5 separate regions of the Homo sapiens genome follow, and all the other regions are linked to region 1. The links come from fine-mapping of genetic effects on gene expression. A gene starts in region 1. Each other region holds a variant in brackets. All regions are shown on one strand. Distances are between the middles of the regions. Region 1 holds the start of ZWINT (ZW10 interacting kinetochore protein). Region 2 has its middle 41 kb from the start of ZWINT. Region 3 has its middle 85 kb from the start of ZWINT. Region 4 has its middle 78 kb from the start of ZWINT. Region 5 has its middle 580 kb from the start of ZWINT.

What was found. PIP is the estimated chance that this variant, and not a neighbour inherited with it, causes the effect. A credible set is the group of variants that fine-mapping cannot tell apart.
Region 2: its variant is the best candidate, but not a certain one, in a credible set for the expression of ZWINT in hippocampus (GTEx, PIP 0.79).
Region 3: its variant is the best candidate, but not a certain one, in a credible set for the expression of ZWINT in fibroblasts (GTEx, PIP 0.54).
Region 4: its variant is the best candidate, but not a certain one, in a credible set for the expression of ZWINT in esophagus muscle (GTEx, PIP 0.84).
Region 5: its variant is the best candidate, but not a certain one, in a credible set for the expression of ZWINT in prefrontal cortex (ROSMAP, PIP 0.69).

What each region holds. Positions count from the first base shown.
Region 1 is chr10:56,357,324-56,363,853 of GRCh38, forward strand. ZWINT (ZW10 interacting kinetochore protein) reads right to left here and starts at 3,936. Exons shown (of 9, transcript NM_007057.4): 1 at 3,873-3,936; 2 at 2,970-3,060; 3 at 2,695-2,818; 4 at 2,364-2,530; 5 at 2,153-2,209; 6 at 1,482-1,624; 7 at 1,233-1,401; 8 at 1,054-1,136; 9 at 1-862. The coding sequence starts at 3,913. The coding sequence ends at 1,095. It overlaps LOC124902546 (a long non-coding RNA gene), which reads left to right and starts at 4,136. Exons shown (of 2, transcript XR_007062372.1): 1 at 4,136-4,533. RefSeq lists enhancers at 1,821-3,020, 2,166-2,906, 3,646-4,385, 3,734-3,903 and a silencer at 3,994-4,203.
Region 2 is chr10:56,398,938-56,405,467 of GRCh38, forward strand. No RefSeq gene overlaps it. Among named protein-coding and RNA genes, the nearest start is that of ZWINT, 41 kb to the left of the region's middle. The variant A/G (reference allele first, on the strand shown) is at 3,354.
Region 3 is chr10:56,273,002-56,279,531 of GRCh38, forward strand. No RefSeq gene overlaps it. Among named protein-coding and RNA genes, the nearest start is that of ZWINT, 85 kb to the right of the region's middle. The variant T/A (reference allele first, on the strand shown) is at 3,050.
Region 4 is chr10:56,280,268-56,286,797 of GRCh38, forward strand. No RefSeq gene overlaps it. Among named protein-coding and RNA genes, the nearest start is that of ZWINT, 78 kb to the right of the region's middle. The variant G/A (reference allele first, on the strand shown) is at 2,199.
Region 5 is chr10:55,779,940-55,786,469 of GRCh38, forward strand. No RefSeq gene overlaps it. Among named protein-coding and RNA genes, the nearest start is that of ZWINT, 580 kb to the right of the region's middle. The variant G/A (reference allele first, on the strand shown) is at 3,574.

The sequences.
Region 1 (6,530 bases):
TCAATAGAAGACCAAATTATTTTTCAAAGAAATTTATGAATCAATGAAATAATTATAACAGAATATAGGAAATGCTATGAATTGAATGATTGTGAAAATAAAGGAAGTCAGAAGAAATGTATAACCTTAAATATTTATTTGAGAAAACAAATAAAGATCCAAATACGTGAGTTGATCATCTGATAAAAGTAAGAGTTGACAAAAAAGGTACATCTTCTCCAATCCGAAAACAGAAAGTGGGAAAGATCAAGGTATCACTAGAGGTCAATGAAACAAAACATACAATAGTGGATGACAAAAGCCAATCTCTGAATCTTTGAAAAGAATATAATAAATGAACATCTGAAACCAGTGATCGAGAAATGTTTTAGATAAGGCACAAAAAGATACCAAGAATGTTAACACTAGGCTGTACATCCTAAAACAGTCAGATGAGCTCACTGTTATAATTCTGGTTCACCGCAAGAACCTTAGCACAAAGAAAGGACTCAACAAACATTTGGATCCATGAATAAAATTATCTTCCCACATATAACCACCTGCCTAAAACATTCTCCTCCTCCTTGAATTAAATTCACCATGTCTGCATCATAGGAGGCCCAAGGCCAGTACCCCCTCCCCATCTGCACACCCTGTGTTCAAACCAGTCCCAGCTCCTGTCATGTTATTGGCTTCTGAGTATCTGTATTAATAGTTGTTCCTGCCAGCATATGAAGATGAACAAATACACAACTGAGAGAGATCCAGGGATTTTAATCCACAGATGCCAGAGCTTGCTGGGATGTAGTCAGAAATCAAGCTGAACTCAGGAGTTCACAGTCTTTCCTGTAATGATGGTTGGGAGGTGAGGGAAGTCAGAGGCCTGGGGAAGAAGACAGGGGTTAGCTCTGGGTGGGCTAAGCATGGGAATGAGGTGTAACATAAGCTCTTTCCTGTTCCCACCATCCATCTGCTCCATGGGTAGCAGAGCTCAGATGCAGAGAGAGGTAAACCAGGCTTTCCCTCCTTCCACACTTGCAGTCCAGGGACACCAAGGCCTGAGTTGGGTCTGACCTTTTCTAGGATCTTTCTCCATGCTGCTGTCCTCCAGGAAGTCATGGCAAATTTACATCTCCAGCAGGTTGTAGACCAACAGCCTTGGAGAAATACAGTATAGACAGTGGGTAAGGCCAATCTCCCAGCTTCTGTCTCCACCTGCCAGCCCATGCCCACCTGTTCCATCTCTCATTTACCTTGAAGGACACACCAGGGTCTCTCCCCATGGTGTCTCCTGTACTCTGCTCCTGGGGTCGAGTCGGCTGCTGGGGTTTATCATCTGGAAGATTCTCTGCCTCAGCCTCAGCCTCAGGGAACAACAGCTTACCCTGCAGGGTATACAGAAGCTGGAGGAAGGTCTGATACCTACAAAGAGGAGGTAAGTGTGAAGGAAAGGAATCTCAGCTGGACCATTTTGAATCTGCAGCCCATGCTCCCGAACTTACCTCTGCAGCTTGTCCCGCTCCTGTTCTGCCTGCTGCTTCAGGTTTCCAAGTTTCTGAAACACCCTGTCAAGCTCCTGCTGAGTCCCTGTCTTACGCTCCCTCACCTCTGCAGAAACCTCCGCCAGATGCTGCAGATGCTTCTCCTGCCAGGAGTGAGCATGCAGACATTATGCATCAGATGTTGAAGTCTTAGAAACTCCCTCCAACCCCTCCAGCCTACACCCAGCTCAGGGCTCAGGCTCAATGATGAAAAGAGGGACTCTATTCACTTCAGGGTGGAGTAGGGGCCTAGAGAAAAGGAAAGATCAGAATGAGCTGTTCTAGGGTGAGGCATTCTTGCGGGGAAGGGGCACAAAGGTGATAACACTTATTTAACTTGCTATGTGCCAGGTACTATTTTAAAGTCCTTGCTGTAATGATCATTTAATCATCTTAATAACTCTCTAGAGTAGGTGGTATTATTGCCTTCATTTTAAATAAAGAAACAGAAAGTTAGGTGACCTGCCCAAGATCATGCAGTGGTAAGTGGTGACACTGAGATTCAAGCCCATGTTGGTATTTATATTATAGTGCCTCAAAGGAGGAAGCAAAACGGTTTTCTAGACAGGGGACACAGCCGATACAATGGCATGGTGGTGGGAAGGGATATTCTCCTAGGGGGACGAACCTACCTGTTGTAGCTGCCACTGGTTCTGGACTGCTCTGCGTTTCTCCATGGCCATTTGTTTCTACAGATAAGCAAGGGAGAAAGACCAAGAGAAGTCTATTTTTTCTGGCTAGAATTTTGGGAGATTGCAAGCTGGCACAACTCAGCTTGCTCACTCTTTCCCTCTTCCTTTCTAACTGCCCTTCCCTCCCTGTACTCAAGACCCCTGGGTGTACCTTGGCCTGGAGCTGCTCAAAGGCTTCCCGGAGTTGTGTCCGTTTCCTCTGGGCTTCCTCCATCTGAGTCAGGGCCTTGGTGAGGCCAATTTTGATGGCCTCTACGTGCTCCCTGTAGGTGGCCTTCAGCTCTTTCCATTGTTCCTTAGCTGCAATTGCCTTCTGTCCTGAGATGAGCCACCAGGAATGAGTACATGAGTGAGGGTGGCCTGCTAGCCTGCCTCCCTGCAACACTGGGCCTCCTTCCCATCAGCCAAATGGGAGACCTAACTGAAATCCTCCTTCCTTCCCCACTCAGGTCAGCTGCTACTACAATCCCCTGCCTACTCACGGCTCGTGTCTTCAGAAGCCAAGGGGTCGAGACCCTTAGCAGTGTCCTCCTGAGCCAGGATGTTCTGCAGGAAATCCGCTACCTGAAGCTGGCTGCAGAGCAGCTTGTCTTTCTTCTGAGAGTCCTGCTCAGAGGGAGGGCAGAGACAGGGAACATCCTTACCTCCTTACAGGTTTCCTTAAGTCTGCTCTCTGCCAGTGCTGCCCTGTATCTCAGTAAGAGGAGCCAGGACCAGACCCTGGCTTCTGAAAGGCTCGCTCTCATCTTGTACATACCACCACAAACTCAACCAGGATCTTGGCTGGCAGTTCTGCCTCCTCCTGCAGGCCTACAGGTTCCAAGATGCCTGCCACCTCAGCCAGGACCCTGGAGGGGCAAGGAAACACAGGAAATTGCAGTTTCTTGTGGTGCTAGTTCTACAGTTCGTGTGTGTACACAAACAAATGTGGATGTGTATATCAGTATATATAGTATTGAGAGTCTTGCCTTGACCAGAGTTTACACAAGGGCCTGAAGGGTCCACAGCCTGCAACCAGGAATGGCGTGCATGGAGGGCACACGGTGGTAATACGTGCCAAAAGGAAAATCAGCAGGGCTAGTGGATAAGGAGTTTGAGAAAAGAGCTGAAATTTTAAATAGGGAGTGTCTCACTGAAGAGAAATCATTTGAGTCAAGATGTGAAGGAAGCCAGGGAGATATGCAAGGAAGGGGAAGAATGCTGGGCCTTGGGATCCCTCCTGGCGCTGAGCACCAGCCTTGGGGCAGAGTCTTGGAATAGCTGAGAAAGGACTCAGGGCAGAGGGCTGGATGCCTCGGTCTACTCTAGGGTTTTTCATTATTAGGGACTGGAGCAATCTACGAAGGGGCAGGGATGGGGATGAGAAGTGACTGGGAATGTGTCGTGTTGGGACAAGAAGACAGAAGTGAAACCGTCTCCTAGAGCACATCCTGTGGATTATGTGGATGTGGGGAGCGGCGAACGGTCCCCCAAAGGCTGTACTCCTGGAGCAGGCAACAGACACCTCAGGAACCTAAGACGGGACTGCGGTGAGGATCACTTCACGGCAGGGTCGAACCTCAACAGCTGTACAGGGTCGAGGGCACCAATCATTACACATAGGGGCCCACAAGGTCCTCCCAGGCCCGGCCCCAGCTGCCACTTAGCCGCAAACACTTACTCTAGGGCTGCAGCTTCCGCCTCTGTCTCCGCTGCCTCCATCTTTCCAGGCGCCGAGTTCAGCTGCCTTCCCACAATCCCTAAGATTACTTTGAAGTCACAGTCGACTTCGCGCCGGGGCAGGCGATTGGCTGCAGAGGTTAGTGGGCGGGCATCAAGGACCATTGTGCGCTCTAATTGGCAGGCGCGGATTCGCTCGTTGGCGGGCCTCGCTGCTTGGCGCAAGCGCGGTTATGGCTAGGCGCGCACGGGCTCTGCGCCTGCGCGCTAGTCCTTACGCGGTGCCAGAGACTATAAGTGGGCTTGAGCTCGACCGCGCGCCTGTGGAAGTTCTTTCTCTACTCGAAAAAGGGAAAGCATTTCCTTGAGTTTGCGTTTTAAGGGAAACTTACAGCATTGACACTTTATTTAAAATATTCACTACTGCTGTAGAAAAAAAAAAACAAAACCCCGAAAAACAGTGGGGCTGTTTCTAAGACGCTGGGAATCAGTAAAGAATAGTGATCCGGGAGATACAGGAAGCAAATGATCTGCGCTCAAAAAGCGAGCTGCTTTCAAAGATATTAGTATTTTATAGATGCGATGCAGGAGAGTGAACTCAAGCAGAGCCCAGCCGATTGCCTGCGTTGGCAAAATAGAACAGATATTCTGGGGAGACCAAGGTAGGTAATGTTCTTTGCAGAGTACAGGAGAAAGATAACTGCTGAGAGAGAACTTGGTATTCATTCAGCTGAGTACTGAGCAGTATGTGTCTCAAGAAACTAGCTAAAAGATTTTTAAAGATACCAGGACATGGCCGGTCGCGGTGGCTCACGTCTGTAATCCCAGCACTTTGTGAGTCTGAGGCAGGTGAATTACGAGGTCAGGAGTTTGAGACCAGCCTGGCCAACATGGTGAAACCCCCGTCTCTACTAAAAGTACAAAAAAAATTAGTTGGGCGTGGTGGTGGGCGCTTGTAATCCCAGCTATTCGGGAGGCTGAGGCAGGAGAATTGCTTGAACCAGGGAGGCTGAGGTTGCAGTTAGCCGAAATTGCGCCACAGCACTACAGCCCTGGTGACAGTGCGAGACTCCGTCTCACAAAAAAAAAAAAATACATATATATATATATATAAATATATATATATGGACATTACAGAGGGTCAGAAATAGTCTCTATTTCCACTAACCAGGCTGGAAAACTTCATAGTCCGTAGGACACTGGACAGAGTACACACAAAAAAGTCTTGATTTGATAGTTGTTTACTAATTATTTAGTAGGCAGTAATTAGTCCTAGCTGATCAGTGCTGTAGTGCCATCTAACTCTTAAAAGTAAGACCCAAATGGATCAAACTTAACAAACCATGACAGATGACAAGACCAAACTTCAGCAGTATTTATAGAAATAGAAAAATGTTCACCAAAGGTGCAATTTACATATGTCATACAAAGAAAAATTACCAAGCTTGCAAAAAGAAAAAAAAAAACACATAATGAGGAGAAAAATCAATTGCTGATCAGAACTGAAGTAATGTTAGAATCAACAGGCAAGGACATTAAAACAGTTATTGTAACTATATCCCATATCTTCAAAAAGATATCAGAACTATAATGAAAAAGGTAAGTGGTGCTAAGGATGTAAAGAAAGTGGAATTCTCATGTTGATGGAAATGTAAACTGGTGCATAGGCTTTGAACGTAGGGTTACCATATGAGTCACAATTTCATTCCTAGTTATATATCCAAGACAAATAAAAACATGGGGACACAAAAGTACACAAACCTCTATAGCAGCATTATTCACAAAAGCTGAAAGGTAAAAACAACCCAAAGGCCCATTAGCTGGTGAGTGAAAATGCATACTTTCATTCAATGAAGTATTAATCAGTAGTAAAGAGAACTTTATTACATGCTAAATAATGGTTACTACATGCTAAAATATGAACCTTGAAAATATACTAAGTGAAAGAAGCTAATTACAAAAGACCACATAATATATTATTTCATTTATGTGAAATGTCTAGATTTGACAAATCTATAGCAACAGAAAGTAAATTTATATAGTGCTTGTCCAGGGCTGGGGATTGGTGGGAATGAGAGGTTGAGAGAGTATGGGGAGGGACTGCAAATGGATATAGTGTTTCTTTTAAAGGGATAAATAAAATGTTCTACACTTCGGTTATGGTGAAGGTTGTACAATTCTATACAGAAAACCGCTAAATTTACACTTTACTGCTGTCATAAAAGCTGTTAAAAAAGTTAATCAAAGACACAAAGCTTGTAATAAAGACCTAAATCAAACTTGTAGAGGTGAACACTACAATGTGATAGATGGAATTAGATGGTATTAATATAGTATGTTACACATTGCAGAATGAAAGTGAAACACAGCTCTAGAGAAACTACCCAAAATCAATCACAACATTAAAAAATGAAAATAAAGTAACATGAACAAATCAATGGTGAGCTGTGAGACAACTTCTAACAGCCTAATAATATACTTGAAAGTGGAGTCTCAGAGAGGCAAGGGGAGAGGACAAGAAAACAAGTAATAAAGACCAAAAAATTTGAAATGTGATGAAAAATATAAATTCATATATTCAAGAAGCTTCACAAATCTCAAACACAAGAAATATTAAGAAAATGACATCAAGTTATACCATAATTGCATAACTCAAAAC
Region 2 (6,530 bases), 42 kb after region 1:
CTAATAGTGCTGAGCTATGCTAGCAAATAGGAGGTTCAAACATGTTTCCCCTGCCAGGAACACTCTTCTCATTTCTCACTTGTTCCTTTTTATCTTTCCAGTCTCAAGACCTTCAAAAAAGGGCCTTTCTAGCCATTTTTATAGCATCTATAGGATGGTTCATTTTATATGTCAACCTGAATGGGCTACATGATGCCCAAATATTTGGTTAAACATTATTCTGGGTGTGATTGTGAGGGTGATTCTGGATGAGATTAACATTTGAATCAGTAGACTGAATGAAGCAGATTGTCTTCTCCAATGTGAGTGGGCTTTACTTATCCAATCTGTTGCAGGCCTAAATGGAACAAAAGATGAGATAAGGGAGAATTCATTCTCTCTGCCTGATTGTTTATGAGTTGAGACATCATCCTCACTTGTACTTGGACAGGAACTGTGCTACCGGCTTGCTCTCCTGGGTCTACAGCTTATAGAGGGCAGATTGTGAGACTTCTCAGCCTTCATTACTACATGAGCCAATTCTTGATAATCTCTCTCTTTCTCTCCCAGTGAATGTGTGTATGTGCACATATGTGTGTATACATACATATATATGTGTATATATACATATATTGTTTCTGTGTATATATGTGTGTGTTTATATGTGTGTGTATATATATTGTCTCTGTGTGTATATATATATGTGTGTGTATGTGTGTGTGTGTGTGTGTGTGTATATATATATATATATATATATATATATATGGAGAACCCTGAGTAATATAACTTAGTTTTTTCATTCATAACACTTTTTGCAAATTATGACTACACATTTATTTGTCTGCATACATTTGTTTTGTCGATGTCTCTTTTTAGAATGTAAAATAAATCCAGTGAAGGCAAATGTCTTGGCTCTTTTGCTTACTGCTAAATACCTAACATCCAGCACATTGCCTGGAACATAAAAGGTGCCAAATAAATTTGTGCTTATTACATAAATATATAAATAAATGAACTAAATGAAAAATGTGAAATATAGTTTCATTTCCTCACCTGTAGAAAAAGTAAATTGTATTTTTTGGGTGTGTATTTAGCAAGCTTATGTGGGGATCAACTTTAGAAATGCATAAAAAAAGTATATTTAAACCTCTAAACTCCATATAGATACTGGAGATTTTTCAAATATGATTTCGTCTACCAGGTTATTAAATCCAAACTGTAGTAGTGCAGTTTTAATGTCTAGGTATTGCTTTCCTATTAATTTTTAGGCCATCCAGTGGTTTTCTTTAATTGATTTAATATAATTTTACTTTCTCCTCACACTGTTCTCTTCTAGTTTTTCTATAATTTCAAGCATGGGGGTGGCCATGAGTTCATTTGCTTTCTTGGAGGGAACTGTGTCTCAGAGAAGTTGCAACCTGCCCAATATTACCTGTGTTTAATAACTGACAGGAAGAGTTCAATTTATGTGTCACAACTTCAGATCGTTCTGTTAAATCATAGGTGGAAGGCATAGCAAAAAGGAGGGTCAATCATTTTCCTTGAAAGTAAAATAGAATGGTTAGAACAATTTGATTTAAATGATTTTTTTGTTTACTTATTTAGTAATACAAAACTCAGTGTCAGGCCGGGCGTGGTGGCTCACGCCTGTAATCCCAGCACTTTAGGAGGCCGAGGCAGGCAGATCACCTGAGGTCAGGAGTTCGAGACCACCCTGGCCAACAGGGCAAAACCCTGTCTCCACAAAACATACACAAAAAAAATTATCCAGGCGTGGTCGTGCGCACCTGTAATCCCAGCTACCCGGGAGGCTGAGGCAGGAGAATCGCTTGAACAGGGAGGTGGAGGTTGCAGTGAGTTGAGATCGTGCCACTGTACTCCAGCTTGGGTAACAGAGTGAGACTCCATCTCAAAGAAAAGTAAAAAGAAAACTCAGTGCCAGCTATTATTTTTTGTGTTTTTTTTTCTCCTTTTATTTTAGTTTTGGTGGTACATGTTCAGGTTTGTTACATGGGTAAATTGCATGTCACCGAGGTGTGGTGTATGAATGATCCTGTCACTAACGTAGTGAGACACACCCAATAGGTTATTAATTACATGTGTTAGAATTCTAAAGCAAAATAAATGTTCCTTTTCTCTAATATTCTTTTGAACTCTATCAGTTAGAGGCCATCAGTATGATTTTAGAAATGGTGAGTTTCAACCGCGGGCAGGAATTAAGGCATTTCACTGAAACATTATCTGCCTGAATTGTAGCTTTGCAGTTCTTCTCTAAGCTATGTTATATTGATTTGCCATTCACTGTATTTTCTGATGTTAACATTTACTTTGCCTAAAGGAATAAACATAAAAAGACACTTTGTTTTATTTGTCCAAAACAATTTGTGATAGCTGAGATTATCTTTCTGGATTTAGAGTTCAATAAAATTGGCAGGTGACCTGTACTCTAATTATTGTATAGATATGACATTTTATTTATAAAAAACTTGATTTTTTAACACATTAAGTGGAAAATACATTTAAAGAAAATTATATCTGTTAACCAACTTTCCTCATCCTTTAGTATATTATGCTTGTAGTGGAGTGATAGGGTAAAGGCATATGGGTAGTGGGGTAAGTCATATGTAGTAGAGTGAGAGGGTAAAGACATATTATATATACATATATATATGAAAGCATATATATAAAATATGTATAATTTCTTTATATATATAATTAAATTAGCTTTACATAGAGTTTTTCTGCCTCTGTTTGTGTTTCTGTGTAATCCAATGGTGCTTGGTCAAGCTTTCATAGACAGTAATCTTAAGCGTAAGTGAGGTGCTTAGAGTACTTTGATACTCTTAGTGAAGCATTTTTTAAAACAACCCTGACATAATTATTCCCCAATTCTCCCAACAGAAGTAGAGATTACACTATAAGCAATTCATTATTTGCATTGCTTAAATGTACCATAGAGATAATAATAGCCTCCCAGAGATGTTCAAGTCTTAACCCAGAGCCTGTGAATATGTTTCCTTACATGGCAAAAGGATTTTTCATGTGTGATTACATTAAGGATCTTGAAATGAGAGATTATTCTGGATTATCCATGTGAGTCTAATGTAATTGTAAGGGTTCTTATAAGAGAAGAACAGGAAGGTCATAGTCAGAGAGAAAATGTAAAGATGAAAGCAGAGGTCAGATATTTGAAGGTGCTATACTGCTGACATTGCGCATGGAATATGGGATCATGAGCCAAGGAATGCAGGCAGCCTCTAGAAGCGGGAAGAAGAAAGGACATGTATTTTTCTTTAAAGCCTCAGAAGGAACACAACCTTGTTAGCACCTTGATTTTATCTCTTTGAAACCTAGTTAGGACTTCTGACCTCCAG[A/G]ACCATAACATAAATTTGTGTTGTTTTAACCCATAATGTTAGTCATAATTGTCTTACAGCAATGCCATATGTCTCAGTCTATTTGGGTTGCTCTAACAAAATACCATAAACTAGGCAATTTATAAACATGAGAAATGTATTTCTTACAGTTGTGTTGGATGGGAGGTCCAAGATCAAGGCACCAACAGATTCAGTGTCTGGTGATGACCTGTTCCCTGGTTCATAAATAGTGCCTTCTGTCTGTGTCCTTAAACGGTGGAATGGGCAAGGAAGCTTTATGGGACCTCTTTCATAAGGGCATTGAAACACAGTCCATCCTCGTGATCTAATTATCTCCCAAAGGCCCCACCTCCTAATATCATCACATTCATGATTATGTTTCAACATTATAAATTTTGGGGGAACACAAACATTTCATGTCATTGCAAGCAGCAACAGGACTCTTATATTATACAAAGAGTCACCCTGCATGTCATGATATTTGAATTATGAGCTATGAACACTTTATAATACCTTTCTTTATTTCCTCTAATCACTTCTCATAAAAATACCAAGTACATAAATTGAAACCAAAAGAATGAGAAAATATTTATCAAATATTCAATAAATGTTTACTGAGCAAAAACTAAATTTCAGGGACTTAAAGGTCCTGGAAATAAATATAAGAGTAAAGAATATTAAAACTATAATGCTCTGTTTCAGAGCAGGGGCTGGAGAATACAATTCATTATGGATCTTTAGGCACAACAGAGCTAAGAGAGTTATGCGATCAGATTCATGTGTTTCACATGGTGAAATGTGTGAAAGGCCTCAGAAGAGGTTGTCTTTAGAAGTATCTATAATTCAAGTTAACAGCCTTCAAAGGTTTCAATAGCAGCTAAACCTCATTCATCATTCCAGGAAGAAATAAATCTACTTCAGTTCATCTCACACCATTATTCCAAGGATTGCCTGTGAGTTGTCATTTTTTTTTCTTTGTATGTATTAGTGAAGTTTGCTCTTTAGTTTTAGGACAGGTTATACAAAAGCATCCAAGAAATTTAGTCAAACTACTAGTTTGAATCACCAGCAAAATAGTGAAATCACTGATTTTATACAAGTCACATCAAGATCATGCCAAGTTTTAAAATAAACAATCAGTTGTACAGTTTTAAAACCTTCATTGTTTGGTCATTGCTGTATAGGTGTGTACTCTTGGGATATATACAGGTGTATACTCTTAGGATATATCTGTCTCCTCATTGTGTCTCCAAAATTATTCATTTGCTGCTTGCAATAGTGCCTAACTTTAAAATGGCATGTATGACTATTTAGAAGATACACTTTATCTTATTTGATTCTCTCAGTTTTTTATAGAAATTATAAAAATAATTGTAATTTTTAAAACTTTTTCATCAGGGTAAACTTCAAACTCATAAAAAAGTTGTTTCATCTACCTTAAGAATTGTCAACTGGGGCCAATCTTAATGCATCTATACTTCTGTACTGATTCATTTTGAAGCAAATCTCTTCCATTTTTATCATTTAATTTATAATGATGTTAAGTATGTAGCATGTATCTTCTAAAAGACAAGAATGTTTTAAATATACATAGAAATAATCTAATATCTGAAAAAAGTTTCTTAATTTCAAGTAACTTGTCAATAGAGATCTCAGAATTTGTGTATTACATATAACCTTATATAAGTGCTTAACGTTACATTGTCTCCTATATTTCTGAAAAAAATATTTTTAAAGAGATTGGTCAATTTTTTGGAAATAATATTTCTTAGATGGTATACATTTCCATCAGAAAACACATAACATCTGGTTGTCTCTGTTACGTGCTGTTGACAGCCATATATGATATTTCTAGGAGCCAATATGTTGTTTGAAGTTGGATTATGGCGATACTCTATTTCTACCATTTCTCATAAATAAGTAATTGGCATAATTGTATAAATTTTTTTCTTATCAATTATTTTTTGAATTGAGGTACAGTTTTTATAGTAAGGAGAGATAATCTCTTTGATTTTTCTTTTATTACCCAGTATTTAATATAATGAATTAGTTACCTATTATTCTCTAATTGTGACCATTATTTTTTGTTTTGATTTGGTTGGTTGGTTTGGTTGGTGTTGGCTTTTTGATATCATTATGTACTCATAAATTTAAATATGTTTGATAAGTGTCAATCTATTGCAGTTATCATTCTTATTGATGGGCAAATTATCTCAACTGTACCCAAGGAGAAACTCTTCAAATTGGTCTCTAGGACTTTTTAACGTGACACTAGTCGTCTCATATCTCTTTTGCTATCTGGTTCTATAAGATGTTATAGCAACATCTGGTATACTTTCTAACCCATACCTCAATCAGCCATTTATCCAAGGACACCTGATTGATTTCTTTTGATAGAAAATTGTGTTCAGATTCCAGAATGTAAGTGGCTAGTGGACACATTAGAAATGAATTGTTCATTATTTCCAGATGTTTTTCAGTGGATATTATATTCATTTCCTATTGCCACTATAACAAATTACCACAGGCACAGTGACTTAAAACAATGCAGATTTTCCTCTCCTACAGTTCCAGAGGTCAGAAGTCTAAAATAGGTTGGCAGGGTTCTGTTCCTTCTAGAGGGTGTAGCAGGTAATCTGTTACCCTGTTTTCTTGTGTTTCCAACACAAATATTTCTGAAAACATATTTAGAATAAAATTGAAGTGAAATAATAATTTATTAAAGAAAATGTCTCCAAAACATATTCATGTATTTTTTTTTTTTAGATTTGTAAGTTGTTTTCTTGAATATTTTAGAGCAAACTCATTGGTAGCTTATTCATGTCGTATTGTTAAATTTAGGAAGTTAGAGCGGGTGTGATGGCCCATTCCTGTAATCCCAGCAGTTTGGGAGGCCACAGTGAGGGGATTGCTTGAGGCCAGGAGTTTGAGACTATCTTGGTCAATTTAATGAGATCCTGTCATTATAAAAAATACAAACTTTTTTTGGGTATGGTGGCACTGGAGAGGCTGAAGTGGGAGGATCCCTTGGGCCTTGGAGGTTGAGGTTGCAGTAAGATATGATCATATCACTGCACTCTAGCCTGGGTGACAGAATTATGCCCTGTCTCAAAAAAAGAAGAAAGAAAGAAAAAGAAAAAGAAAATTAAAATAATTTAATGTAGAGAATTAAATTAT
Region 3 (6,530 bases), 84 kb before region 1:
TCTCTGCAGTGGCTGTGAGAATGGCAGCCCCGGTTCTTGGTGTGGCTTGCCACTGCTGCAGGGGGCAATACAGACCTTGGTCTCAAGGAACTTTGGTTGTGTTTTGACCTGTCTGGTAGCTCTTTGAGGAATCAGCTCAGGGACTTGCGTTTGTTGTTACAATCTGATTCTAAAGTTTACACGGAAAAGTAAAAGACTCGACGAGCCAACACAATACTGATGAGCAAGAACAAGGATGGAGGACTCATCTGATTTAAGGACTTACCATGAAGCCCAGACATGACCCACACAATATATAAAGAATACCTGACAATGAAGCAAAGGCAATTCAATAAAAATGAGTCTTTCGAACAATTGGTGCTAGAACAATTGAACCTCTGTCTGCAGAAAAATAAACCTAGACACAAGCCTTACACGTTTTGCAAAAATTAACTCAAAATGTATTGTAGATCCAAATGTTAAGATGCAAAGCTATAACTTGTAAAAGAAAACATGGGAGAAAATTTATGTATCTGTGAGTTTAATTATATAGCACCAAAAGTGTGATTCATGAAAGAAAAAAATAGGAAGTAGACTTTATAAAATTTTTTAAAATTATACTTTGAAAATACACTGTTAAGAGATTGAAAGACAAGCCACAGACTGAGAAAAAAGTGTTTTCTATACTTACATCTGGTAAAAGACTTGAATACAAAATATACACCTATTGAAACACACAATAAGAAAAAATGTTAATGGGCAAGAGATCTGACCTCAGCAATGAAGATTTTTGTATTGCAAATAGGGATATAAAAAATTAAGCTCAGGCCGGGCGCGGTGGCTCACGCCTGTAATCCCAGCACTTTGAGAGGCCAAGGCGGGCGGATCACGAGGTCAGGATATCGAGACAATCCTGGCCAACATGGTGAAACCCCGTCTCTACTAAAAATACAAAAAATTAGCCGGGCGTGGTTGCGGGCTCCTGTAGTCCCAGCTACTCGGGAGGCTGCGCCAGGAGAACGGCGTGAACCCGGGAAGCGTAGCTTGCAGTGAGCCGAGATCGCGCCACTGCTCTCCAGCCTGGGCGACACAGCGAGACGACTCTGTCTCAAAAAAAAAAAAAAAAAAAAAAAAATTAAGCTCAACATCATCTATAATTAAGGAATCTCAAGTCAAAACAATAAGCTACCACTATGCCTATTAGAATGAACATTTTAAAATTGACAATACCAATTACTAGCAAGAATGTGGACCAAAAGAAATTTCAATTAATTGCTGATGGCAATGCAAAATGGTACAGCCATTTTTGAAAACCATTTGTTAATGTCTTACAAAGCTAGACATAGTCTTCTCAGATAATCCAGCAATCACGCTCCATGATTTTTTTAAATTTTACTTTAAATTCTGAGATACATGTGCTGAATGCACAGATTTGTTACAAAGGTATACATGTGCCACGTTGGTTTGCTGCACCTATCAACCCATCATCCAGGTTTTAAGCCCTGCATGCATTAGATATTTGTCCTAATGCTCTCCTTCTCCTTTCCCCCGGCCCCCGACAGCCCCAGTGTGTGATGTTCCCCTCCCTGTGTCCATGTGTTCTCATAGTTCAACTCCCACTTGTGAGTGAGAACCTGTGGTGTTTGGTTTTCCGTTCCTGTGCTCGTTTGCTGAGGATGATGGTTTCCAGCTTCATCCATGTCCCTGCAAAGGACATGAACTCATTCTTTTTTATGGCTGCATGCTCCATGATTTTCACCAACTGATTTGAAAACTTACATTTACAACAAAAGCTGCATGTAAATACTTATAGCAGCTTTACTCATACGGGCAAATGAGGAAGCTAACAAGATTTCCTTCAATAAGTGAATGAATAAAAAAATTTATGATGCATCTGTAGAGCTGATATTATTAAGTGATAAAATGAAGTGAAATATGAATCCATAAAAGACATTTTTGAATTTTAAATGCATATTTCTATATGAAAAAGTCAGTGTGAAAGGGCTACATATTGGATAATTACAATGGTTTAACTTACTGGAGAAGGCAAAACTGTAACAATGGACAAAAGGTGAGTGGATGCCAGGGTTTGTAATTTTTCTGTGAATCTCTAGCTATTCTAAAATAAAAATGTTATTTAAAAAATTAGAAGTTTTATATTATATCAAGAATTTTCTGTTAGGAATGGAAAAAAGTGCCCATGGTAATCAAGCCTGCCATTTTGTTTGAAGTTCATGGTTTCAATTCTTATCATTCAAGTGTTCAGCTTTTGGATTAAAAGACTCCTCAACTGTCCCAAGTAAAAATGTGGACATGGTTGATGGAAGTAAGATGTTAATAAAGTAGTCATTATTACCTTAGCCTTTAAGTCCACTTGAATAAATCAACTGAAAACTAGCTAAATTTTGGAAAGGGGAGATGAAAACTGACAGTAAAATATTCTGAGCAAACATATTATTGTAAGAAGAAAGGAATGCATATTGATTTAGATAAGGGAGTGTTATTTCAGAGAAAATGAGAGATATTAATATTTTCTTTTAACAGTGGGACTTCTGCAGGAAGAAAATATTTTTATAGTTTGACTCAGTAAAAAGAAGGTATAAAAAAAGAGGTACAGAATTGGCAAACTGGCATGTGTTCACAAATGATGAACCTTTCCTTGCATCTCATTTTACCTGGAGGTAGTTCTGATGGGATGTTAGATATATAAATGAGGTAATTCATATTATTAGAGATAAAATAATGGGAATATATAATGAAATGCACCTTTACATATATACTTTTATTCATTACAATTTTATTTTTTAAATAACCTTTGGAAGGGGTAAGAAATACAGGTAAAGATTAGTATTTATTGATATTTTAAGTATTTGTCTGAGTTATTCAAATTAGCATTAAAAGGAGAAAATGTTACATTGGTTATTGGAAGATAAAACCAAATTAAATTATATACTTGTGGCCTCAAGATTGAAATTAGCTAAACACATATTAGAACAAGGGTTCTTTTGGATAAAATGTCCTTTGCCCATATAAATGATAATAGAATAAAATAAGTATCAGGGCAATTAAC[T/A]AAACAGTCATAATTATTGACTGATCATATGTAAAATAAAAATGTCATCTTTTATCAAAAGTTTAGACAGGATTTTGGGAGGAAATTGTGAGAAACAAAAAATGTAATCCCAATAGGATGAACACAGCTTGTAAATAAAATATTGCTTTGAGTTTGTTTTCTTAAGATATTTTTGGATGTAATAAATAATAATAATAAACAGTGAGAACACTTGGACACAGGAAGGGGAAGATCACACACCGGGGCCTGTTGTGGGGTAGGGAGAGGAGGGAGGGATAGCATTAGGAGATATACCTAATGTAAATGATGAGTTAATGGGTGCAGCACACCAACATGGCACATGTATACACATATAACAAACCTGCATGTTGTGCACATGTACCCTAGAACTGAAAGTATAATAAAAAATTATATATAAAAGATATTTTTGGATGTAATAAAGATTTACTGCTTACAATATAAAGAAAACAAAGTCTTTTGGGTCTTTTTTAGCACAATTATTCCTTTTGTCCATCTTATTATATGAAAAGGAATATGGTCTGAAAAAAATATAGACATTACTCAGTACTTGGTCTTTGTGAATTGTCAAAGCATCAGAGCAAATATTGGAGAAGTTTTATTGCTTAAGTTCTTGTCTCTGCTTCTGGCTTTTGTCAAGAGGGTCAGGTCCCCTTCACAAGAAGGGTATAAGTATAGAGCAGGAGGTCAACAAGCGATAATTCTAGGTTTCAGTTTAAAGAACACAGAAGAAATCTTTCATGAGCTTAGGAAAATTGGAGAAGTATACTTCAAGTAACTTGGGTTTCTGAAGCTCTTTTTTAGAAAATCAATAGCAATATCAGGCAGTACAACACTAAGAGAAATTTCTAAAGCATTTATGGAATTTTATATCTTTCAATAGAGAGCTTTGATTTTAAGTCCCTGTCCCTTTGAAGCAATGTATTGATTTTCTTCCCATTGTTCATGAGGTCACTTTATTTTTATAAGAACACTACTACAATTTGTCTATCAATTCAGAGGGAAAAAGGTAAATATACAAATTATTGCCCAGAAAAACTTCACTCTGTAAAAATAAAAAGAATATAATCTATGTTCTCAGACTTTATGTCTACTCTGTATATTTGTGACTCATAAAGCATTGTGTGGTCTGGAAATCATTACTTTTATTGTTGTTTCAGGATCAATAGCAAGCAATACACACTAGTACAAGAAAAGAGAGTCTAGAAATTAAAGGCATGTTTCTTGCCCTAAGTTCTGCCCTTCTCTTCAGCTGAAGGCAATTTTGATGCAATAAATAATAATTCTTCATGTACAATTTAAATTATTAATATATTTTTGACCCCCTATGTAAAAAAGAATTAACAAGCTCCTGGCCTAAATCACTCCTATTTTATAAACCCAGAACCACAGAATACATTTCTTTGGGACTTATTTATTCTTAGTCCCTCTTCCCAAGAACTAAGAAATGTTGAGTAAGTTCTACCCTATGCCCTGTCTCACATTCCTGTTCTACTTTCTTACGACCAGTTTGAGACTGTAATATGTTTTCTATTAACTGGAAAATGGTAAGGACAGCCTTGCTTTTAACTTGACCATCCTGTTCTCTGGTGGTCTTTCACTAGCACCTTTAACTTTCTGCTGACATTATCTCTTAAAAGAGGTGCGGTGTGAAGATAATGAAAGTCACATACACAATGACCACAGCTTCAAAATTAGTCTTGGCATTTAAAAGTTTTAATTTAGCCTAGAAGTGTCAGATGAGTTACATTTCTTCATATTGATTTTTTACTTTTACGTAGTGATTAAATGAGTTCAGTTTTGAAGGAGTAAATATTTTATGGAATTGTCCAATTTATATAGTTTATTAAAATAATGTTTCTACATTTGGGCATACATAAAGTTTTTAGATGTTCTTATTAATTTGAAATATGAAAGTGAAGGCATATTTTAAGGCATATTTTAATTTTAAGTGGTACAATGTTTTCAAATGACAAAAGGGTAAAGAGAAAAAATGTTCATAAATATCTCAACTAGAAGTAATAATTTTAAATGATAGATTTTGTTGGCATATTTATTTGTTTAGATGACACAAATCTGGAAAACATTGAATATATATTTTTGTAAATGGCTATTTTCACTTAACAATCTATTGTATTACATGTCAGTAAAACAGTTTCTGAATCTTACTTTAATTACAATTTTTAAATTTATATGGATATTACATAATTTCTGTAACTCATATATTTCTAGGCACTTAGTTCATTGTCAAGTTTCCACTTTAAATAATAATGCTGCAATATATTTGGTTTACATAAAAGGTACCCAACTTCTCTGATTATTTTGATGTTATTATGGACAAAATTATGTTTTCCAAAATTCATATATTAAAGAAGAAACCAAAACTTCTGATACTTTGAGACTGTACTAGCCTCAAGAAACATGAGAAAATAAATGTTTAGATTTTAAGCCATTCATTCTGTGGTATTTTGTTATGGTACCCCTAGGAAATTAATACAGGTGCATTTCCAGAAATATACTCACCGCATCAGCGCTTAGGAACTCTGAAATTTTGAATTCACATTCACATTTTGCTCTCCATAAGAAGCATGAAAGTTCCTGCTTTATTATGCCCTCACAAACAGTAGTTAATAATGTGTTAAAAAGCAAAAATAGAGGGAAGGGAGGGAGGTAGTGATGAGGGAATAGAGGGCTAGAGAGAGGGAAGAGAAAACAACAAAGGCATTGCTTTAAAAACAGAGTTTAACAATGAATAGAGACAGAAAGCAGTTTGGCATGAATTCTATTTTTCATCTGATTAATTCCATTTAATTTATTAAATAAATATATTTTATTAATAATATGGCCCAAAGCAATATTTTTTCTAATGTTGAAAACATGCAATAACTACTGGTTACTCATCAATAGAATATAGGGCAAGGATTTATGCAGATTTCAGTTCCTAATAATTACAAACTGCAGAATTTTTAGAGGACCTCAGAAAGGTAGTAAATATTATGTGACTTTTTAATATAAATTTTAGCAGGCAAACAAGCAATATTTTCCTGTTCAAGGATAACCAGTGGAAAATAAATACATAAGAAAAGAATGCTTTGCTTTGTAGTGTACTGAATTATAAGCAGTACTTTCCCAACACTATGAGAATTTGATAAATTTTCACACCTACATTTTTGTGAAAAAAATCTGTGATCGAAGGCAATGAAGTAGTAGAGAATGGGGGAAATTAACTAGCCAAGAGTAGAACCTCTATGATAGAAGACATTTTTTAAAATATAAACAAACTTTAAATTTTTGTAAAATAATTAATATTGCCATTTCTCATTTTCCTAAATGTCTCTCAAATGTCATTGGTTTTGCAATTTCAAACTAAACTTAGTAATTAAATTTTATGCTGACAATGTAATACAACTCCTAATTTTACAAAATCAACAATAGAGTAGACATATTTTAATGAGTCTTTGAA
Region 4 (6,530 bases), 77 kb before region 1:
GTTTTTGCTATTAAAAGTAGTGACAAAAACCACAATTACTGTTGCACCAACTTAATATCAAATGAGATTTTGGTCCTAAGGCATTTAAAGCTGTGTTGTTCTATTTACATCGCCTAGAACATAGCTCTAAGTTCTATAGTTCTGTATTCACTCCCATTGTTATTATTGTGGTTTTGACCCTACTTACCTTATTGCTGCACTATTACGACAGTTCTGCAAACATTCTCCTCTACTGAAATAAATTATCCCCACAAACTGTCTTTCTAAAATCAGATCTCATCAAGTAGGCTTTGAAATCTTGAACGAATATTCTCAGTTTAACATTTGACATCAGTGTAACATGCATCTATTATCTTTAGCAGTAGTATCTGTACATACTCTACCCTTAACAGACCCTATATGTGGGCCCTTACGTTCATTACTGTTTCCCTAATGGCACAATAAACTTTCATACCTTTGTGATTTTGTTCAGAAACACAACTACCTCACTTGTATTCTCATATTTTAGGGATTAGTTGAAACGTAACTTAGTAATATCTTTAGTTTAATTTCTCCTTTTGAAGTAATTGATTTATCAAATGTGTTCTTCTAGTAGTTTATACTTTCATTTATCACATAAAGTACCACAGAGGTACATGTGTCTCTCTTAGTGCACTATAGCAGTATACCAGCCAGGAGACATATCATAATTCAGGGAAAAGTGATATCTTCAAAAGACACCTAGTTCATGTGGTATATTTTTTAGTATGTTGCAAAAGCATATTCCTTATATCTAAATTCTAGTTTCACCTGCTATCATCTCCTATAATTTGATATGACATTGCTATCAATAGAAAGCAAACTTTGGCTGAGTAATTGTAGTAGAAAGATTTGGATTTAGAGTGAGGGTATGAAGAATAAATCAGAGTGAAGTTATGATCACACTAGTTGGTTTATTTATTAGATGCTTACTGATTGTTAGGCATCTTGCTAAGCATTCTATATACACTATCATGTTTATTTCATGATGTATTTCATGTTTATGAACGATAGAAAGGCAAGAGAGCAGTAATAAAAGAGGAAATAAAAAGGCATCTTATTTACATTTCAGAATGTTTCCCAATCCAGGTCCTACATTCACATAGCAATATGCATTTTGAACTTACTATGCTAAGAACTAGAAATGCAAAAATGAATAAGTACTATGTCCACTTTCATAGAGCATGCAAACTAGTGTTTAATGAATTGTTGTAAAAGATGTCCACAAAAATGCCATGAATGCCATGAATGACCATAGAATTCTGACTATTAGACTTGAATTGTGTCCTTCTCCAAAGATAAAAAATATACTGATATTCTAGACATCAGTACCTCACAGTGTAATCTTATTTGGAAGTAGGGTCATTGCAGATATAACTAGCTAAGTAAAAATGAGATATAACTGGAGTAGGGTGACTACTTAATGCAATACGTTTGATGCCCTAATAAGAAGATGAGAAGGAACACAGGGACACAGCACATAAAGGGACAACACCATGTGACAAAGGAGGCAGAAATTGAAGTTCTGAAGCTGCAAGCTAAGAAACAAAGGATCTCTAGCAAATCACCAGAGGCCAGAAAGAAATGAGAGAGTTCTCACCTATGGGTTTCAGAGAAACCATGACCCTGCTGATACCTTGATTTCAGGATTAAAGTATTTCCAGAACTGTGAGAAAATATTAATAAATTTTTGTTTTTCTTTGTCATTCAATTTGGAGTATTTTATTACAGCATACCTAGAAAACTAATATGCTCACATAAAAATGACAATTTCCATATTTGAGCTAGCTTATGAAATATTACTAAAGCAGTAATGTTAGTTTTCTTTGAAAATAGACATTCTTGTCAGAAAACAGGTGGAGAGCAATTTGTGGAGCAAGTAACTGATTTGTTTGGCAGATTTTTGTTCATTTACAGATTTTTTTTTTCTAACTTATATTTTAAGTTCAGGAGTACACGTGCAGGTTTGTTACATAGGCAAACTTGTGTCATGGGAGTTTGTTTTACAGATTATTTCATCACCTAGGTGTTAAGCCTAGTATCCATTAGTTATTTTTTGTGATCCTCTCCGTCCTTCCACCCTCTGCCCTCTGATAGGACCCAGTGTGTTATTCCCCTCCACGTGTCCATGTGTTCTCATCATTTAGCTCCTACTTATAAGTGAGAACATGCAGCACTTG[G/A]TTTTCTGTTATTGTGTTAGCTTGCTAAGGGTAATGGCCTCCAGCTCCATCCATATCCCTGCAAAGGACATGATCTTGTTGTTTTTTTATGGTTGCCTTGCATTCCATTGTGTATATGTACCAGATTTTCTTTATCCAGTGTATCATTGATAGACATTTAGGTTAATTCTATGTCTTTGCTATTGTGAATAGTATGGCAACAAACATGTGTGTGCATTTGTCTTTACAATAGAATGATTTATATTCCTTTGGGCATATATCCAGTAATGAGATTGCTGGGTTGAATGGTATTTCTTGTTGTTATTGTTGTTTGAGACAGAGTTTTGCTCTTGTTGCCCAGGCTGGAGTGCAATGGTGCAATCTCAACTCACCGCAACCTCTGCCTCCCAGGTTCAAGCGATTATCCTACCTCCGCCTCCCAAAGTAGCTGAGATTACAGGCGCCTGCCACCATGCCCAGCTAATTTTTTTGTATTTTTAGTTGAGACAGGGTTTCACCATGTTGGCCAGGCTGGTCTTGAACTCCTGACCTCAGGTGATCCACCCACCTTGGCCTCCCAAAGTGCTTGGATTACAGGTGTGAGCCACGGTGCCTGGCCAGTATTTCTATCTTTAGGTCTTTGAGGAATCACCACACTGTCACAGTCTTCCATAATGACTGAACTAATTTACACTCCCACCAACATAAGCATTCCTTTTTCTTCACAACCTCACCAGCATCTGTTATTTTTTGACTTTTTAATAATAGTCATTCTGACTGGTGTGAGATGGTATCTCATTATGGTTTTGATTTGCATTTCTCTAATGATCAGTGATGTTGAGCTTTTGTCATGTTATTGTCGACTGTCTTCTTTATTTTCTAGAAAGAGCAACTCTATTAAGGTATAATGTATAACAACTCCGTTACAACAGATAAGAGATCACATAGCATATGCCATAAAGAAAATTTGCTGTGTCTCTTGTTGTTTGTTCAATGATTTTTCAGGCAATCTAGCATTAACAATGAAATTATATTACAGTAATTGACTGTATAGATTTTCTTTCTCATCTTGTTACTATCTTAATGGTTATTGACATAGAGTATGTCCTTTAACTTCAACATTACACATCAACCAAAAATCAGCTTGGGCACTAAAAGGCATATTTAATTCCAAGGACTCAGCACCACATATCAGCTCTGTCGGTAATTACAAAATGTTCTACTTATCAAAATACTCAACAATTGAGCAATGTAAGTCCTGTGTTATATATCTTTCCCCAAAATACCTACTTAGATCTCTACATCTTCAATTTCTTTGGAATGCTTACGTAAGTAGAGATTATTTTGTTCGAACTTTTATTGTTTGAGAGTATTTTTTTATCTGTATTTTCTTCTCACCAAAAAAAAAAAAACATGTTTTGCTGCAATTTGCTTTACCCATAATGTGAAAGCATATTTTAGAAAAACTGTAACAGAAATAGAATTAAGATGCAAAAAGCAGATTTTTTGGAGGTAGTTGATTTAGTTGCTTCATGTAACAAGTTTAAATATTTTGTGTTATTCAATAAGCAATTTCAGGGATCAGTCCATTTTAGAAAATGATACACTCCTAAATTATTTATTGTTTTTAGTTTAATAATCTGTTAAACTTTTGAGAAGCAGTGTTATCAATATTTCATTGTTTTTGACTACCTGGCTGATATATTTATTAGGCTGTTGCAAATCTTACTCCTTCTCTTCTCAATACTCACATTGATTTGTAAGTACCAGCTGGTTATCTTTCTATCTTAGTAATCAGAATTTCTATAGTATGTTTTCTTTCCTATAGTTTCAGCTATGTTAGAATATTTAAAAACTGCTTTATGAGATTCAGTCTGTGAAGTTTGAGAGCCTTTTGCTTTTTAGACTAAAAAGTATGTGTTTTATTTATCTTGCCATTAATCAATGCAAGCACATATGGTAAGTATTCATGGGCACCTACTTGCTTGATAACTTTTATACAATTATTAGACTCCAACTGACATTTTGTGTTACTTTGCCTTCTTATTTATGCTTTACATTAACCTTTGCTTTCCAGTATGATTTGTTTATTAGAGATCTGCTTACATTACTGGATAGCCCTAGTATATTTTATCTGTCAATTCTTAAGCAATCAAGTAACCATGATGAAATAGGAAACAAATTATTTTAATAGCATAGTATCACACCCTTTTTGAAATAAAATTTTGCAGTATCTTTGCTTAAAAAGTTCTATCTGCTCTTTAGTCTTCCCCAAAGTGCCACCGGTAAAACTAAAACCTGCCATATTCAGGAAATAGCATAATTCAGAAACTTTAAATTTCTTTCCATACGATGATGACATAAAGAAAAGGTCTTTCTTGCTTTACTTGAGTATTGCTTTAGTTTTGGGTATGATGTGCATTGTACACTCTGGTATGGTTTATCAATACCAGTTATTTAAGGCAATATATACGACAAAGAAACTGGATATACACTTGTTGTAGTATATGATGTCAAGGTTTATTCATTTATATGATCTCACTTAGCTTTCTAATTGCTACACTATGTGTTGAATGTAGAAGTGAAAATTCAGTTCAAAGACTTTTTGTCAAGTTTAATTTGACTAATTTATATGATTGGTGTAGAACATTTCCATCATCCCAAAGAGTTCTGTCATTTCTGTCAGTCCTTTACCCCTGCCCTATGGCCCCTGCTTTCTAGCACTTTGTTTTTGCCCTTTCTAGAATTTATATAAAATGAATCAAACTGTATTTGGTGTTTTGTATCCGAAATTCTTCACTCAGAATAATGTACTTGAGAGACATCTATTTTGTTATGTCAGTACGTTATTCTTATTTATTGCTGAGCAGAATTAATTATTTCACAGTTGTCTGGATTAAATATATATACATATATACTATATTTATTATTATACACATATCTTTTAAATCATCTGTAATAATTGTAAGGAAATATTTTATGTGCCTTTTTATGTGACTTCCTTTAATATTTTCTGTAAATATGTTTGCTGAAATATTTTATATTAGACAAATATATTCCTATTTAATGGATTATATGCTATATTTTGAAGAAAAATATTTCAACACTATTTTGTAAAAATATTAATGAAATAATGAAATATTGGCAAATGATGACATTTACTAAATAATGTATCATTATTTTTTACCCTAGTCTAACACTAAACATAATAAAATTGTTTAAATTAATTAGAAATTCTTGTATTCACCTATAGTAAAAGTGCAGGTAACATTCTTTATTACTAGGAGATAAATTCATTGAATCTGTTTTTATTTGAATATATAATTAAAATCTTGTCATAAATATTCAGCAGGCTTAGATTCTCATGCTATATGGCTGAGCAATTTTAAGAAATGGTTTTATAAGATAAATTGATAATATTGAAATGCCTATCTGTAAGTATATACTGGTATTTCCACTATCTAACACACTAAATGTGTGTAATTCTTCTAAAACCTAGGAAATTATTTTACTAGAAAGACTTCTACCCTATATGACAATATCCTCTGGGAAAATGCAAATGAATTTTTTTTCCCCAAGTAAAACATAGAAGTTTCACAGGATACTGACTAGCTTTTACTTTACATACAATGTTCTTAAACTTCAATATTTGAGTTTTCAAATTTCACTAAATTAAAGAGAGATAGCTCAATGCAACAGCAAAGAAATTGAAAAATGTATGAAGTAACTTATTAAAGCAAATCAAGAAACTAAAGTTCTACATAACTTTGACACAAGAATTCCTATGTAATTTGAGATTGCTTAGCATGTTATTAATCAGTATGGCTCACATTACTCTCAGGGTATTGCTTAACTTATTACTGTTACAAAATTACATATGTACATAATAATGAGTCATAAATATAATAATAAACATAGCAGGGCATCATTGTCATACATGTCTAAAAAGGGTGTAATATTTTTGGAAAATTCCTATGACAAAGAGTTAGACAAATTTTCTTGCACAGAAGAAGTAACATTTACTTATGTGCCATTTTGAAAAACTATCAGAAAAAATTGAATATACATGTATGTTTTCATATGAGCAAAGCATTAGAGAAGAAATGGCTAGCTTTCAATGTTCATATTAGTAGACTGAAACTATATAATTCTCACAGCTTCCATAAAAACAAAAGAAGATTATCAAGTTATTAACTTCTTTACATCATTAAAATGTATAAAACTAATAAATCATATCCTGGCTTACTTTTTGTTGTTAATTCATATGTGTATATATATATTTTTCTATTTCCATATCCAAATTAAATTGCAGAAGTGGATTTATCAGATAAATCATCATTTTCCAGATAAATG
Region 5 (6,530 bases), 580 kb before region 1:
TGACAAGATTTACTTATTTATTTATTTATTTATTGGGAAACAACATTGGAAGCAGTTTCTGCTCTGCCTCTTTAATCCCTTGGCCAACGCAATCTTGAGTTCTGCACAGTCTCACTATTAAGTCTTGTAGGGTGAATACATCTTTACTTCAAGTTTTCATGCACTTTATCTTCATCTCGGAGAATTATTATTTGAAAAAAGTTCTCAATATAAAACTCATATTAAGTAAAAGACATATAATACATTGTAATAATTCAGCAAATATTGCTTATGGTGTTGTACTTACCTGACACTTGTGAAAAATTTAAGGAAAAATTTTAAATAGTTTTACATTACTTTCATAGAAGAACCACAGTAATATAAGAGCTCTGCAAGTCCACGTTTTACTACGTTGCATTATTTGAAAAGCAAACTAATTTTGAAGTATCTGATGATTTCAAAACACAGTTCACTATTATTTAATTAGTGAAGGGAGATGCATGTGAGGATTTGAAATATAATTTTTAACGTTGACTTAGATACTTTCCCGAAATACCATAAAAGTAAATGGTATTTATATATTTGTTTGTAAGATGCTATGATTTTAAATTTAAAAGTCTATGTAGCTTTTTCTGAAGGAAGCTGCTCTACCATTGTAGAAGCAATTTTGGGGCATTTCTCTTACTTGATTGACTCTTTTCTTATCCAGATGCTACCCATTTTCAAGATTGCACAAACTCCACTTCTATAAGGGAACTCAGCCCACAAGGCTCTCATGTACATCAGTAACGTCTATATCTTTATTTACCACATATGACTTGCCCTATCAAATGAAATTATATACCACGAAGTCAGGATCATATCTCAACTCTTCTGTAAACTCCACAATGCATAGCATAGTGTTACTCATGGGAAGAATCAAATACTTGTGATTGAAATGGGTTAACATTCTTCTCACGTTAAGGAACATACTTCTTTTATTGTACCTGTTGTTACGCAGGGTGTAAGATTTATTCTTTTCCCCAGAGTTGATATCAATACTTTAAAAATATGTAAAAATTGAAGATAAATGGGGAAACAAACAATTTATGAAGGTCAAAACTATGAAGTAAATTTCAGTTCATGGTTATTTGGCAGAAATACTAGGTTGGAGAGTATGGTTCACATATGAGACCAAATTAAATATTATTTAATAGATTTATTTCATACTTAGTTGAAGGAAAGCAAGAAGTAAAAACTTAGCTTGACCAAAAACCTGACTTGCTTTTGGCAAAAATTGTGGTGGAGAGAGAAGAGAGAGAGAGAGAGAGAGAGAGAGAGAGAGAGAGAGAATGAAGAAAGAGAATGAATAACCTCTACCCTGTGAGAAAGTCTTTCCATTCCAAATGACACAAATAGAGAATCTAATGAATCTGAGTCTAGGAAAGTCAAAAAGGAAGCAGATTGGTATCCAATCATTGAAGACAATAAACCTGAACACTAAGAAGACATGACTAAATAAATGTCAGGTTCTAAACAATTAAACTGGTTACTTCTCTTACACTGAAGTAAACAGAGACTGGAAATCTCTGTCTCAACTCTCCCTATCAACTCAATACCTTGGAGTCGAACATAGTTTTCCAAATAAAAAGATAATGAGGCAGAATATGACACCTTGATTACTAAATGTTCTAGTTCATATTGAATATTTCCATCTGAACTTGAAAGCCAAGGTCTCGGGGACCCATTTTTAATGTGCTTTTCAAAAAATTCATATTAATTACTTTATATGTAATTAACAAATAATTAGATATGAGGCTCATAAATGAAATATTTATGTTCATATAATATGGCTAATGTATGGTAACAATAGTATTAAATCTATAGATCTATGATGGGAGATTTACTAGAAAAACAATAGTAGGTCTCCCAACCCATGAGCATAGAATGATTTTCCATTTGCTTAGATTATTAGTTTTCAGCATACAAATCTTAGACATATTTTGCTAAATTTATTTCCAAGGGTTTATTTTTATAGTATTGTGAATATAATTATTTTTAAAAAAAATTTTTTAAGAGAGAAATTGTCTTGCTCTGTCTACCAGACTGTAGTGCAGTGTCTCCCAATCATAGCTCACTGCAACCTCAAACTCCTGGGCTCAAGCAATCCTCCTGTCTCAATCTCCTGAGTACCTAGGACTGAGAGGTGAAAGCCACCATGCCTGGCTAATTTAAAAAAATAATAATAAATTCATAGAGAAGAGGATCTCTCTTTGTTGCCCAGGCTGGTTCTGAACTCCTAGACTCAAGTAATCCTCCTGACTTGACCTCCTAAGGCACTGGGATTACAGGCCTGAGCTATTGCGCCCGGCCACTTCGATTTCTTGATGGCTTTATCAATATATTCTTCATTGTATTGACTATAACTTCCAGTGCAATACTGGATAGAATTAATGAGAGTGAACATTAGAGACATCTTTGGCATGTTGCCAATTTTGAGGGGAAAACATCCAGTCTTTCACCATTAGATATGCCGTAAAATGTAATGTTTTGAGTTGTTGTTGTTGTTGTTGTTGATGTCCTCTAACAGGTTGAGGAATTTCCATTCTATTTTTTTATTAATTAATGTTAGATTCTGTCAAATCCTTTTCCTGCATCATTGAGATAATCATTTCATTTTAGTTCTTTATTTTATAACATAGTATATTACATTAGTTACTTTTTAAGTACTAAAACAATCTTGCATTTCTGGGATTAATTTCACTTAGTCATGGAGTGTAATCATTTTTATATATGGTTGAATTTAGTTTGATAATATTTTATTGGAGATTTTTGTGTCTATATTTGTGAGGTATATAGATCTGTAATTTTATTTTTATTTTTTTCTTTTTAAAAATTTCTCCTCCTTTCTTTCTTTTTTCATTTTTGCTTTTGAATATAGGCCTGATAACATGAATTGGGAAGTTTCTCTCTTTTTCTATTTTCTGAGTATGGGTATCATTTCTTCGTTGAATACATGAAATAACTTACCAGTGAAGTCATGTAGTCCTATATATTCCCTTACATAAGACTTTTAATTGCTAATTAAAATTTAATTGCATATTTATTCAGATTTTCTATTCATTTTTGTTTCAGCTGCAGTAATTTATATATTTTTAAGACTTCATACCTTAAATGTAAGTTGTATAATTTGTGGTCACAAAGCATTTTATAGTATTTCCCTTGTAATTCATATATTTGGATGGGATGAGGGAGGATTGGTAGTAGTAACCTTTGTTCCTGATTTTGGTAATCGACACATTCTCTCTTTTTTCTTTTCTTTCTTTCTTTCTTTTTTTTTTTTTTTTCTTTTTTGAGATGGAGTTTCGCTGTTGTTGCCCAGTCTGGAGTGCAATGGCAGGATCTGGGTTCACTATAACCTCCACCTCCCAGGTTCAAGCGATTCTCCTGCCTCAGCCTCCCGAGTAGCTGGGATTACAGGTACCCGCCACCACGCCCAGCTAATTTTTGTATTTTTAGTAGAGACTGGGTTTCACCATGTTTGCCAGGCTAGTCACAAACTCCTGGCCTCAAATGATCCACCCGCCTCGGCCTCCCAAAGTGCTGGGATTTTAG[G/A]TGTGAGCCACTGTGCCCAGCCTTTTTTATTATTTATCATCTAAATATTTCTCACTTTTGTTTATCTTTTCAAAGATTCAAACTTTGGATCATTAAACTTCTTTATTGTTTTTTGCTTCATTTGCTGTTTGATTTCTGCTCTAATCTGTATTATTTCTTCATTTTTCTTGCTTTGTGCTCACTTTAGTCTTCCTTTTAACTTCTAAAGTTGGGAGAATGAATTATTAATTTAAGAACTCTCTTTTTAAAATAACCTTTAAATTTTGATATAATTGTAGATTTACTTGCAGTTGTAAGAAATAATATAGAGAGATCTCTTGTAACCTTATCTCAGTTCTCCCAATGGTAACATCTTGCAAAACGATAGTACAATATCATAACCAATATATGGAGATTGATATAGGTAACATACAGAATATTTCCATTACCATGGAATCCCTCATGTTGTTCTTTCCTAGCCACATCCATTTTCCTCTTTTTCACCTCGTCTTTAACCCTTGACAACCACTAATCTTTCCTCCATTCTCATAATTTTGTCACTTCAGTAATGTTATATAAGGGAAATTCCACATCACATAATCTTTTCTGATTATATTTATTTACTCAGCATAATTCTCTGAAGATTTATGGAGGTTGTTGCCTATATCAATAACTTGTTCTTTTTGTTGCTAAGTAGTGCTTCACTGCATGAATGTAATACATTTTGTTTAAACTTATTTACTCCTTCAAAAATGTCTGGATTGTTTCCAGTTCGGGATTATTAAAAATAAAGCTGCTCTGAATATTTGTGTAAAGTTTTTGAATTAACATGGTTTTTAAAAATTACTCCGCTGTAAATGCTCAGGAGTGAAATTACTGAGTCATAATGTCATTGCATGTTAAATTGTTTGTTTGCTTTTTAAAGCAAGTATCAGATTGTTAAAGAGAATGGCTTTATTATTTTACATTCCCATCAACCATGCAGGAGTTACGTAGTTTCCTGCAGCCTTGCCAGCACTCAGTATTGTCATTATATTTTTAATTTAACTATTATCTTGAGTATATATTGAAATCCCACTGGGGTTTTAATTTTTCATTTCCCTAATGGCTAATGATGTTGACATATTTTCATGCTCTGATTTTCTAAACATATATTCTTTTCAGTGAAATGTATATTCATGTCTTTTGCCCACTTTCTAATTTGACTTTGTTCACTCTTAAGTTTTGAAATTTCTTTATATATTCTTTATACTAGTCTTTTTCAGACACATGGCAAGCAAAAGGGGAAGGAAGGAGCACCTTTTTACCATCAAGTTGAGATGAAGGTCAAGGTTCCCCATTAGGCCTCCCTTGCCACACAAAAAGTAAATACTCTGGGTTTTCAAGGTAAAGTAATGAATGCCAAGAAAGACTCAAATTTTATTTATGTACTAATCATAAAGATGAACTATATTATTTAGATAATCAGAAAAAATAGACAACTTAAGGTTGAGTGAAGGAAACCAAAACTGTGGTTCTACTATCTTCAACTCTCATTGCTAATTGTATTCATGAGATAAAAATCATGACTAAGTAAACTAGGACAATCATGTTTTACCCCATTTTAAACAATATATCCAATTACTGGATGGGAGTCATATTGGTGGCAATCTTTATTTTGGTTAAGTTGCTTTGTTATCTAATGGGGTTTCATAAGAGATTTATTTCACAAAATATAAATGTTTAACAGACCACCCTTTGGGGCACAGGAATAACCAAAATAATCCCCTTCCAAAATGCTTTTTCTTTTGAAGCTATTGATCTTCTTGTATACATCTAGGGTTGTGAAATGAAATGGATGGTAATTAAAGAAAATGTCTAGCTGACACATAGTTGTCACATTTTTTCTTATTTATACTTTATCTATATCCAGCTCTGTGTATGAATGGATTAATACTAGCCATTATTTGTTGTGCCAATAAGCAGTGGCAATTTTGTGGTGGTGATACTATCACAGTGGGCTAAAGAAGGACATCAGGTTTGGGGTTTGCTTTTTGTTTCTTTCTTTCTTTTTTTCCTTTATCTTATAGGGTTTCTTTTTCTCTTTTTTTCTCTTACCTAAAGCTGGTCCTCCATTGAAAATGACTTCTTTTACCTTTCATTTATATTCACTGAAATGATACTTGACCTATTTTTTTTTCAAAATTATACTAACATTTATAACAATTATCTAGAGAAACAATATGGTATGATAGTTATATGCATAGCTCTGATTTCAGAGTGCCTATCTTTGAATACCTACAATCACACAATGGATCCATATAGTAATGATTAAAATGTTCTCTGCCTGAGTTTCATCTTTCATAAAATAAAAATAATAATAGTGTCTTACTTGTATGCTTCTCATGATAATTAAATTGCTAATAGATATATGTCACCAGAATACTATGCCTTCAGTAAATGCTAACAATTATTATTATTATATTAGAAAAGTTCCTTCTTCATGTCACTGACCTGCTGTTAACCTGTAGTGTCTTTTGTGTAGCTCACACACAGTTCTCTGTACAGCCATTGTGAGCAGCTGTATTACATTCATTTCATTAACTGTATTTGTTCAAATTGTTGCAGGGCTCCTACTAACCTATGTAACCCTCAGAGCTCCAAACAATATTGTCTTATCATTATCTTTCTACCTTTTTAAATTCCCTTGACTTTATCTTAATTTTCTTTTTGTCTGCTCTAACCTGTACTGTTGTTATTAGATTATTTAAAACATTTTTTCTTCAAGAAAGCCTTCCCAATTTATCAGTATCCTACTCAGAACTGTTTTAACTCAGGCCCTCTTACGATTAGTTGATATACATTTATTTATAATGAGTGGTATATTTTAATTCATTTTCTCTGGTTTTATTTTTTTTAACTAAGAATGTCATTGAAAAAAAGATATTTATTCCTTCCATATTTTCCTATAAACTCAAAAGCCTATTAAAATGTTAACT